Regions from separate parts of the Homo sapiens genome. Here region 2 is reported to be linked to region 1. Evidence: microRNA targets listed by miRTarBase, many of them from high-throughput screens and not tested one by one. Region 1 holds a microRNA gene; the other region holds the end of a gene's coding sequence.

Evidence for each region. Region 1 holds the annotated microRNA hsa-miR-124-3p (UAAGGCACGCGGUGAAUGCCAA, at 4,573-4,594, shown strand). A microRNA usually pairs through its seed, bases 2 to 8, with sites in the 3' UTR of a target mRNA and lowers its output. Matches are read on the target gene's strand: a 7mer-m8 pairs with bases 2 to 8, a 7mer-A1 pairs with bases 2 to 7 and ends in A, and an 8mer does both.
Region 2: miRTarBase lists CD151 as a target of hsa-miR-124-3p. Seed matches in the 3' UTR shown: 7mer-m8 at 1,702-1,708.

The regions. Positions count from the first base shown.
Region 1 is chr20:63,173,980-63,179,460 of GRCh38, forward strand. It overlaps MIR124-3 (microRNA 124-3), which reads left to right and starts at 4,521; the gene lies at 4,521-4,607. RefSeq lists enhancers at 293-867, 3,768-4,728 and a silencer at 5,016-5,305.
Region 2 is chr11:836,631-840,858 of GRCh38, forward strand. CD151 (CD151 molecule (Raph blood group)) reads left to right here. Exons shown (of 9, transcript NM_004357.5): 5 at 139-213; 6 at 620-724; 7 at 830-988; 8 at 1,312-1,398; 9 at 1,503-2,201. The coding sequence ends at 1,562. It overlaps POLR2L (RNA polymerase II, I and III subunit L), which reads right to left. Exons shown (of 2, transcript NM_021128.5): 2 at 3,091-3,850. The coding sequence ends at 3,742. Among named protein-coding and RNA genes, the nearest start is that of POLR2L, 3.8 kb to the right of the region's middle. RefSeq lists enhancers at 1,356-2,330, 4,158-4,228 and a silencer at 3,383-3,432.

The DNA of each region.
Region 1 (5,481 bases):
AGAGAAAGGGGCCGTGGCCTCATTTCCATGCGGAGGCCCCAGGCCCTGTGCTATCCCCACCCTATTGTGCGCCTGGGCGGGCTGACAATCGAGGTCTTTGTGGTCGGTTGCTGCACTCCCACCCTCAGCGCTCAGGCAGGCGGGGTCCCTGCCACCCGCTACAAAGGGTGAGGAGGAGCAAGACCAGGAGAGGCCCTCCCTCTCCCCACCAGGCACGGGGCCCCACGACTGGCCTCGTCCAGACCCAAGCCCAGGGGACAGGTGTGGAGGGAGCACCTGCAGATGGAGTCTCCCTGCTCCCTGCACCTTGCCTCTGAGTTTGTGCGTGGGGCCAGTTGCCATGTTTGCACTCCCACCCCCTAGTCCTGGGGATCAAGCTGCCTGGCAGTGTCCCTGGAGCTCCTGGGGGTGGAAGAGGGCCCCTGCTAGGTGGGATGGGCCTTCGGGGGCCCCTGCTCCTCATGGCACCAAGCATCTGCCCACCTCTGGAGGTTAAGCCTGGCGTGGGAGGAATGGGAGGCCCCCTTACCCACAGGGGAGATGTTTGGGGTCACAGTCACAGATGCTGGGTGGGAGGGGGACCCAGGCCTTGCTGCAGAGCCAGACAGAAGTCTCCGCCATCCCTGGGTGAGGCACTGGGTGGGGGCCTCTGAGCTCCTTTGACCACCCCAGCTGGAACTGGGAAGCTGTGGGCCACTGGGAGGCAAGGGTCCCCACCCCCTCTGCCACCCACATCTGTACTGTGGGCACCTCCATCTGGCCTTCCACATCCTCCCCACCTCCGCATGCTGCAGGGGCTGGGTGGGGGGTGGTCTGCAGCAGACTCCAAAGGAGGCGAGGGTCAAGGGTCAAGAGGTGGTGAGCCAGCTGTTCCCAGATGTGGGCCGCGGCCTTTCCTCTTTCTGGAGGAATGACAGGCCTCCCGCAGAGGAGGAGCGGGTGGTGACGAGGGAGAAGGAGCGGAAAGGGAGGGGTTCTCCACGGGTTCTGTTGATTTGTTTAATCCCACGCTATTCGGAGGCTTTCACGGATGGCGGACAAGAGGGAGGGGGAGGGGGTGGGGGTCTCGGCCCGTGTTTCCTCCCCTCCTCCCGCTCCCGCCCCCGCCGGAGCCACCTGACCCGTAGCGAAGTTGCCGGCCCCGCTGCGCGCCGGCCTTTGTGCGCACCGAGGCGGCCGCCGGGAACCGGGAGCCCGAGCTGGCCCGGCAGCGCCGCCGCCCCCACCTTCGCGCCCCTTTTCACTCCCCCACTGTCCCCGGAGCTGGCAAATAAACAAATCCACAAACAAATTATCCGTGTGCTCCGGAGAGGCGGCGGCGTGGGCGGCGGCGGAGAGAAGGCGCCGGGCAAGGCGAGACTAGGCCCCCGCGGAGCGGGGGAAGCACAGACCCCAGCCCGGGCCCGGCAGCAGTAAGTTGACTTTTATGAAACCTACGAAGCTCGCGGGGCCACCGAAAAGGTCCCCACCGGAGCGGACTCTGCGGGGCGGGCGGGGCAGAGGCTGCAGGCGGGCTCCCCTTCCCGCGCGGCTCCTACCGGCCGGCTCCGCCCCCAAGCCCTGGACGGCCCTTCCCCCAGCCCGCCTGGCTGGGGGCCGCTGCACACCGGGGGTGGAAGTGGGGAGCCGGGGACCCCGATCGCTACTCAGGACTCCAAGAGGGGCCGGGTTCTTCTAGGGATGTACAAAAATCTAGGGTGACCCAAGGGAAGGGGGCGACCCCCAGCCTTCCACCTTACCCACCCCGGCCTGCCAGAGAGCCCTCCGCCAAAGGTAAAGTGGGAAGGACGAAGGTGCTCCGCCAGGTGAGGGAACAGGTCTGCCAGGGGCGGCGATCCACCCTGCCCCAGGTGGAGCCGGTCCTGTACGGAAAAGAGACCCAAAGAAAGATTTGGGGTCCCCGAAGCCAAGGTACCGATGGGGGGTGCTAAGGAGTCTTTCCCCTTAGAATGGGAACAAGCTCCAAGGAGCTGGAATCCCGAGGCGTCCTGGACCCGTCCAGGAAGCTAAGGGTGGGGGACGGGAGGGGAGGGGGCCGGGAGCCGGCCTCCCTGGCCCCAACCCTTGGTGAGAAGAGGGCTGGGGGTATAAAGTCCGAAAGTGAGGCGGAGGTTTCAGGGTTCCGTTTCAACACCATGGACAGCGGATGCCTCAGACTGGGAGCCTAGGACCGCCCTGGGGACTGCCCCCGTTTCATTAGGGTGAGGGTCCGATTCCGACCACTGGAGGCCAAGGGCAACTGTCTCCAATGAAGCGGGGCTGCTGCAGCCTGGCCTCCCCAGCCCTCCAGCCCCTCCAGCGTCCGGCTTGCACCTGCTGAGGCTGCCGGCACCCGCAGGCTTGGGGCAGCTTCCAGAGCTTTGCGCTTGGAACAGAAGGTTCCCCTTGGGCTGTGGAGGAGTAGAGGGCTTGTGCGTGACCTGTGAGAAAGAAAGATTGTCCCTGACACTTGCGAAGGGCGAGGAATTGCGGCTGGGAAGGGTCAGGTTGAAGCCGCACCAAAGGGGGAGGGGCGTCCTGATGGTTGAGGACCGGCGGAGTCGGTGCGGGCAGAACCAACCCGAGTTCCTGCCGCCCTTCCTAACCGGCTGTCCATGGGCTGGGCAGTGCTGGAGAGGGTGGAAAAGGAAGGAAGCAGGACCTGCTCCCAGGGAGGCCCAGGCTCTGCTCCGAGGGCAGATGGCGCAGGGGCTGGGTTGGCCCTAGGAGGAAGGAGATGGGGACAGAGGCCTGCCGGCCGCGCCGGCCTGCGCTCCTTGCAGTCTAAACAAAGGCCAGCGGGGGAGGCTCCGGACGGTGAGGCTTGGGGAAGCCACTGATCCCTGGCCCTAGAGGGCCAGATCGGGGGCGCCCCAAGGACCCTATCGAGCTGGCAGTGACTGCAGTCGGGCCGTGGAGTGTCGCCTGTGATTCCGTGGTCCCTACGGGCAAGAGCTCCCATCCCGGTCTGAAACTGTGAGAACCGCAAGCTCCGATGGGGGCGGGGAAGGACGACCTTTAATTCCCACCCCACTGTACGGAGCCCAGCAGGGCCATCCGCAGGAGGCCGGCGGGACCCTTGCCTTTCTCAGGACTGAGAGGCTTGGAGGACCGCGGTGTGAGCTGCGCGGCAGAGTGCGTTCTGCAGGCGCCAGACAGGAGACGCGAACCCGCGGTCAGGGCCCGAGTGCGGGTGCGTGTCTGCGGGTGCCGCTGGGCTGCGTGCCGGCGAGGCGTGCGCGTGGCGAGGCGTGCGCGTGGCGGGGTGTGGCTAGAGGTGTCAATGTGCAGCTGGAGGGGCTGCGCGCGTGGGTGCAGGAGGGCCATGTGAGGGGCTGGAGTGTGTGGGAGACAGGCGTTTCCTTGGGTCTCCGTGTGGCCGCCGGGCGCAGGGCACGGTCGAGGGCGCTCGATGGCTGAGTCCGCGTGAGCCGAGGAGCGCGCGGGGCGGGACGCGGTGCGAATGCGCGGGAGGCACGAGGCGCGCAGTGCGTGTGTGCGCGTGTGCGCGGCGCGCGTGCCCCGCAGTTCTCAAGGACACCTCGGGGAGGCAGCGGCGGGGCCGGTGTCCGGGTGACGTCACCGCGCGCCCCAGTGATAATCGGCCGGTGCCGGAGCGGAGCGCGGATACGCGCGGAGGCAACGGCGACGGCGGCGGCGGCGGCGGGCGCGGGGACAGTTGCATCGGGGCCGGGCCGGGCTAGCAGGAGCTGGGCGCCTGCAGCGTGGACCCCGTGGACACTCGGCTCGCAGCCGGCCTGCGGCGCTCGGGGACTTGCCTGGCTCCCTTCTCGGGGTTCCCGCGCCCTTCTCCGCCCAGGGCAGCAGCGCGCGGGGCCCCCGGGAGCCGAAGAGCAGGCGGGAACTGGCGGCGGCGCGGGAGGCGCAGGGAGCGGAGGCGGCAGCAGCGGCTCCCGCCGGGACTGGTAATTACGCTCGGGGCCGGGCCGGGGCGAGCCGGGCAAGCGGCCTCTCTGGGTCTCCCCGTCTTTCTCTCCACGAACAGCTCGAGCGCCTTCTCGCGGGCCCGCTGCGCGCGGAGAGGACGAGCTCGCTGGGTTGTAAAAAGAGACGAGTTTTCATCTTTGAGCATCGAGATTCGTTCTTTTAACCGCATTCGGTGCGCGCTCCTGGGTCGGCACGGGCAGGGCGACGGCAGGGGAAGGCAGCTGCGGAGGAGCTCGCGCCGCCCAGTCGGAGCGGTTCTGCGCCCCTCGGAGCCCCGCGGGAGGCGGCCGGGTGCGCACGCGCTCACCACCCCCACCCCCGGAATCCGTCTTCGCGATTCCCGGGCGCCCCAGCTCCAGGAACGCCCGGAGGGACGCACTTGGGGGCCCACTCTCTGCCGCGGAAAGGGGAGAAGTGTGGGCTCCTCCGAGTCGGGGGCGGACTGGGACAGCACAGTCGGCTGAGCGCAGCGCCCCCGCCCTGCCCGCCACGCGGCGAAGACGCCTGAGCGTTCGCGCCCCTCGGGCGAGGACCCCACGCAAGCCCGAGCCGGTCCCGACCCTGGCCCCGACGCTCGCCGCCCGCCCCAGCCCTGAGGGCCCCTCTGCGTGTTCACAGCGGACCTTGATTTAATGTCTATACAATTAAGGCACGCGGTGAATGCCAAGAGAGGCGCCTCCGCCGCTCCTTTCTCATGGAAATGGCCCGCGAGCCCGTCCGGCCCAGCGCCCCTCCCGCGGGAGGAAGGCGAGCCCGGCCCCCGGCGGCCATTCGCGCCGCGGACAAATCCGGCGAACAATGCGCCCGCCCAGAGTGCGGCCCAGCTGCCGGGCCGGGGATCTGGCCGCGGGACACAAAGGGGCCCGCACGCCTCTGGCGTCGCGGGGCGGGTGGGGGCGGCCGAGGGCGGCCGAGGGGGGAGCCTGCGGCCGGGGCCAGGCTGCGGCCAGCCGGCCCCCGGCCACGTGTGTCCGCAGCGCGGAGCGCCCAGGCGCCCGCAGAGGGCGGCGGGGCCCGGGAGACAAAGGGAGGGTCCACGGGGAGCGGCGGGCGGGTGCGTGGGGCGGCGGGCTAGGGTGCGGCGCTGTCCGCGGTGCTGGCGGCGGGGCGGCCCCCGCGGGACGGGAGGGCGGCCAAGTGCGGCCCTCGCCCCCACAGCGGGCGCCCTGGACAGTTGCCACGGCAACGTGGGAGGAGGTGGGGCAGGGTCTGAGGTCACCGCTAAGTCTGCCCTTCCTCGGGCCGCTGCGCCGCGGGGCGGGGCGGAGGCGGCGCTCGCTGTGGCCCCAGAGCAGCCCCCGCAGCCCAGGACCAGGCTTGCATGGGGACGGGGGTCTGCGTCCGCGTCCAGGGTCCAAACGAGGGCGGTGGACACGCCGGACCGCATCCCGCCCCCAAAGCCGGCTCTGGGCTGTGCAGGACCAGGCACGTGAGACTCCGCAGCCCAGGGAGAAAATGACAAATCCCTCCCCCGCCGCCATCTGCAGCCGCAGTGACACCCACTCGGGTTTGCTGCAGGGGTTTTTTTTCTGTCCCCGGAAGCCAGCGCCACCT
Region 2 (4,228 bases), not on the chromosome of region 1:
AGAAAGCTTCAGGGAGGGTGGCCGCCCCTCAGCCCCCACCTGGAGCCTGGGGAGCCGGGGTGGGGACTCTGCTCTGAGGTGCACTAGGTCTAGGCACTAGGCCTCAGAACAAGGGTGCCCTTGTGCTGCCCCCCCCAGTACTTCATCCTGCTCCTCATCATCTTTCTGCTGGAGATCATCGCTGGTATCCTCGCCTACGCCTACTACCAGCAGGTGAGGGGCCTGGGCAGGCCATTCAGAGACACAGACATGCACAGGCGGGGCGGACACACACACATGCACACGCGTGGCTAGCCCCAACCCCCACCCCCATGGTCCCAGAGCTAACCAATGTGCCACTGGGCCCTGGAGATGGGGTCTAGGTCTCTGCAGGGGCACATGGGGTCAGGCAGGTGTCCAGGGGATCCAGAAGCTCTCTCTGCCTCTGCCGCACTTCATTGTCACCCTGGTGACGGTCCTGGCACCACCCAACCTCCCCTCATGCCGAGGTGTGACCTCAGCCCTTCCCTGTGGCTCTGAGCTGGGCCCCGGGCCTCCCCACCGGCCATCCTGGGGCTCTGCCAGCCCCACCTTGGAAGGTCTTAGACTGAGGCTGAAGTTTCCTGCACCCCAACCCCAGCTGAACACGGAGCTCAAGGAGAACCTGAAGGACACCATGACCAAGCGCTACCACCAGCCGGGCCATGAGGCTGTGACCAGCGCTGTGGACCAGCTGCAGCAGGAGGTGGGTGGGTGGTGCTGGGAGGGCGCGTGCATCCCCAGGGCCTCCCTGGACCTCTGCAGGAGCCTCTGGCCCCAGGTCTCAACCCCAGCCTTGTTCTTGATGCAGTTCCACTGCTGTGGCAGCAACAACTCACAGGACTGGCGAGACAGTGAGTGGATCCGCTCACAGGAGGCCGGTGGCCGTGTGGTCCCAGACAGCTGCTGCAAGACGGTGGTGGCTCTTTGTGGGCAGCGAGACCATGCCTCCAACATCTACAAGGTGGAGGTGGGTGTGCAGCGGGATCATGCCTCCAGTGTCTACGAGGTGGTGGGGGGGCACCCCAGTGACTGGCTGTGGGCAGTGGGACACGCCTCCAATATCTACCAGGAGGTGGGGGGTCACCCCAGTGGCCGGATGTGGGCAGTGAGACCACACCTCCAATATCTACGAGGAAGTGGGTGGGCAGCCCAGTGGCTGGCTGAGCTGTTGGTGGCCTGGCTGCCTAGGTGCTAGGGGTGGGTTTGGCCACACCCTGGAGGCTGGAGGCAGTAGGGGCCAGTGGGAGGTGCCCCCTGGGCCCGCCTTCAACACCCATCCGCGCCCCGCAGGGCGGCTGCATCACCAAGTTGGAGACCTTCATCCAGGAGCACCTGAGGGTCATTGGGGCTGTGGGGATCGGCATTGCCTGTGTGCAGGTGAGGGCACATGGGGGTGGCGGTCATCTTGTTGGGGACACGGGGCAGGGCGGTGGCTGGTGGCCCCATGACGTCTGCTTACGCCCACCCGGCTCTGCACACAGGTCTTTGGCATGATCTTCACGTGCTGCCTGTACAGGAGTCTCAAGCTGGAGCACTACTGACCCTGCCTTGGGCCTTGCTGCTGCTGCACCCAACTACTGAGCTGAGACCACTGAGTACCAGGGGCTGGGCTCCCTGATGACACCCACCCTGTGCCATCACCATAACCTCTGGGGACCCCAACCTCAGAGGCAGCTTCAAGTGCCTTTTGCTGCGCACCAATGCCCAGCAGGGGAGGTGAGGGGGGCTGGCGGGGCGAAGTTTGGGGGGTGTTTTGTGGGGCTCCCCAGACACACTCTCTGCCTGGTGGTCAGATGCAGGTTGGAAGGGGCCTTGCTGAGTGGCGCAAGGCCGAGCGTTCCCAGCAGGGGGAGAAACCCTTCACACCCCAGGCCCTTCAGGAACTGGGGCCTTGCCTTGCAGCCACATGGCCCCATCCCAGTTGGGGAAGCCAGGTGAGCTCTGACCCTTGGGCCTGGGCCTCTGCCCCTCCCAACCCAGCCCTCGTCTCCCTCGACAGCGCCCCTGCTGTCTTCCCCACCGCAGTCACCACCACCCGAAATGCCACGTGGTCACTGTGCACTGCCCTGTTCATGTGCCTCTGCGGGGCAGGGCCTTCCTGGTTTTGTTCACTGCTGTACCCAGATGCCTACAACCATCCCTGCCACATACAGGTGCTCAATAAACACTTGTAGAGCAGATGGACGAGCTCGCTGTGCTGGTAACAGATGGTGGTCTGTTCTCAGGGCCCTCGCATCCAGCAGGGCAGACAGACCCACCCCCGCCCCGCCCAGTGTCAGGACAAAGAAGGGCAGAGCCAGGAGGACACACCCCCCATGGGGCTCCAGGGAAGGGAGGTCTGATGCCAGGGACAGCTGAGCACAGGCCTCAGCAGAAAGAACTGAACATGTTCCTAAATGGTGAGATGGTGTGTTCAGAGCCCCTGGGGGAGAGGAAAAATGGTTTCCAAAACCCTTCTGGCCATGGTGGGGAGCAGACGTGGGAAGGGTGCAGACTGGGGGCCGTGCCCAGGTAAGAGGTGTCAGGCAGGTGGGGTGGGGGCAGTAGGGTGAGGGGGTTTACATGGAGGAGCCTATAGGCCCTGCTGGGGGCCAGAGGGTAGGAGGTACCAGAGCCTGGTGTCTGGCAGAGGTACCCTGGAGATGGGAGCCAGGGCTCGGTCACTGATTGTGCCCCCCACTGCCCAGGTTCCTGTCCTTAAGGCTCAGAACTGTAGACCCTCAGGCAGACCCGTTCTCCCCTACCAGAGGACACCACGCCAGATATCTGGGCAGCAGGGACATCTGACCTGGGGTGCTTGCTGGCAGCACTGCCTGGACAGCAGGGCCTCCTTAGGGCCACCTCCCAACCCAGCTAGGAGCGTCTTAAGGCCTGCCCTCCCTGCTGGGCTTGGGTGGGACGCTCAGGGACAGGCAGCAGTGGGCAGAGGCCAGCAGGTACTGGCAGCCCTGACCACAGCAGAGACTGGGCCCCAGAAAATCTGTTTCTCTCTTCTTTTTCATAGTTGTGTTGAGACAGAGTCTTACTCTGTTGCCCAGGCTGGAGTGCAGTGGTGCAAACACAGTTCACTGCAGTGGCAACCTCCCAGGTTCCAGTGATCCTCCTGCCTCAGCCCCGAGTGGCCGGGACTACAGGTGTGAACACTGTGCCCAGCTAATTTATTAAATTTTGTTGTAGAGATGGGGTCTCATTATGATGCCCAGGCGGGTCTTGAATTTCTGGACTCAAGTGATCCTCCTGCCTTGGCCTCCCAAAGTCCTGGGATTATAGGGGTGAGCCCCTTTGCCCGGCCTAAATCTGGCTCTTCAGATTCCGAGAGAGAGGGTACAGGAGCCTCTCTGCTCAGCCTGAAGAACACCCAGAAGGAGGGAACCTCAAAGAGCCCCGAGATGGAAGGCTCTCCTGGCAGCGCCTCCTGCAGGGGTGCCTGTGGAACAGGCTGGCCCCAGGGCTAGGAGAGTTCATGGCCCAGTCTGCTTCACTGGGCTGCCACAGTGTGAAAGCTGGGCCTAGACCTGGCTCCTGACATCCTAGTGAGGGCTGGGACCTTAGTGGTTCTGAAAGACCTTTACTGGATGGTTCCTTCCAGAGTGGGGTATCGGATACACACACACTGCGGCCAGGCATTACGCCAGCTCCCGGATGCCTCAGCCTCGTGAATTCGGGGCAGGACGCTCAGGGCCCATGGTCAGCACAGCGGGTGGGTGGGTTCCAGCGTGGTCACTTCTCCAGGGGTGCATAATTGAGCAGCTTCTCGATCAGGTCCACGTGGGCCAGCAGCATCCGGCGGCAGCAGTAGCGCTTCAGGCCCAGGGCATCCAGCGCATCCCTGTGTCGAGGGGAGGAGCAGAGGCCAACTGAGTTCTCTACGGTCTGCAAAGGCCTGGAGCCCACATCCAACCTGCCTCTCACTGCCTGCTGGCCTCACCCCCCCCGCCACCGGCAAGGCGAACAGATTCACCCGGCTCAGAAGCTGAGATCTAGCAGTATGATCCTGGCTGGAGTAACCTGGAAATGCCCAGAACCCTGGGTGGAGCGTGAGGAGCCTCCTCTCCCACCTACTCTGGCTGTACGTGTGTGTGTATAACGTATGTAAGAAATGTAAATGAAATGAAAACGAAGTAATTGCGGGGAGCTTAGAAAACCAAGACCACCAAGGTGCTGATGTGCAGCCACCTCATCCAGCACTGGCCACGGCAGGGTAGCT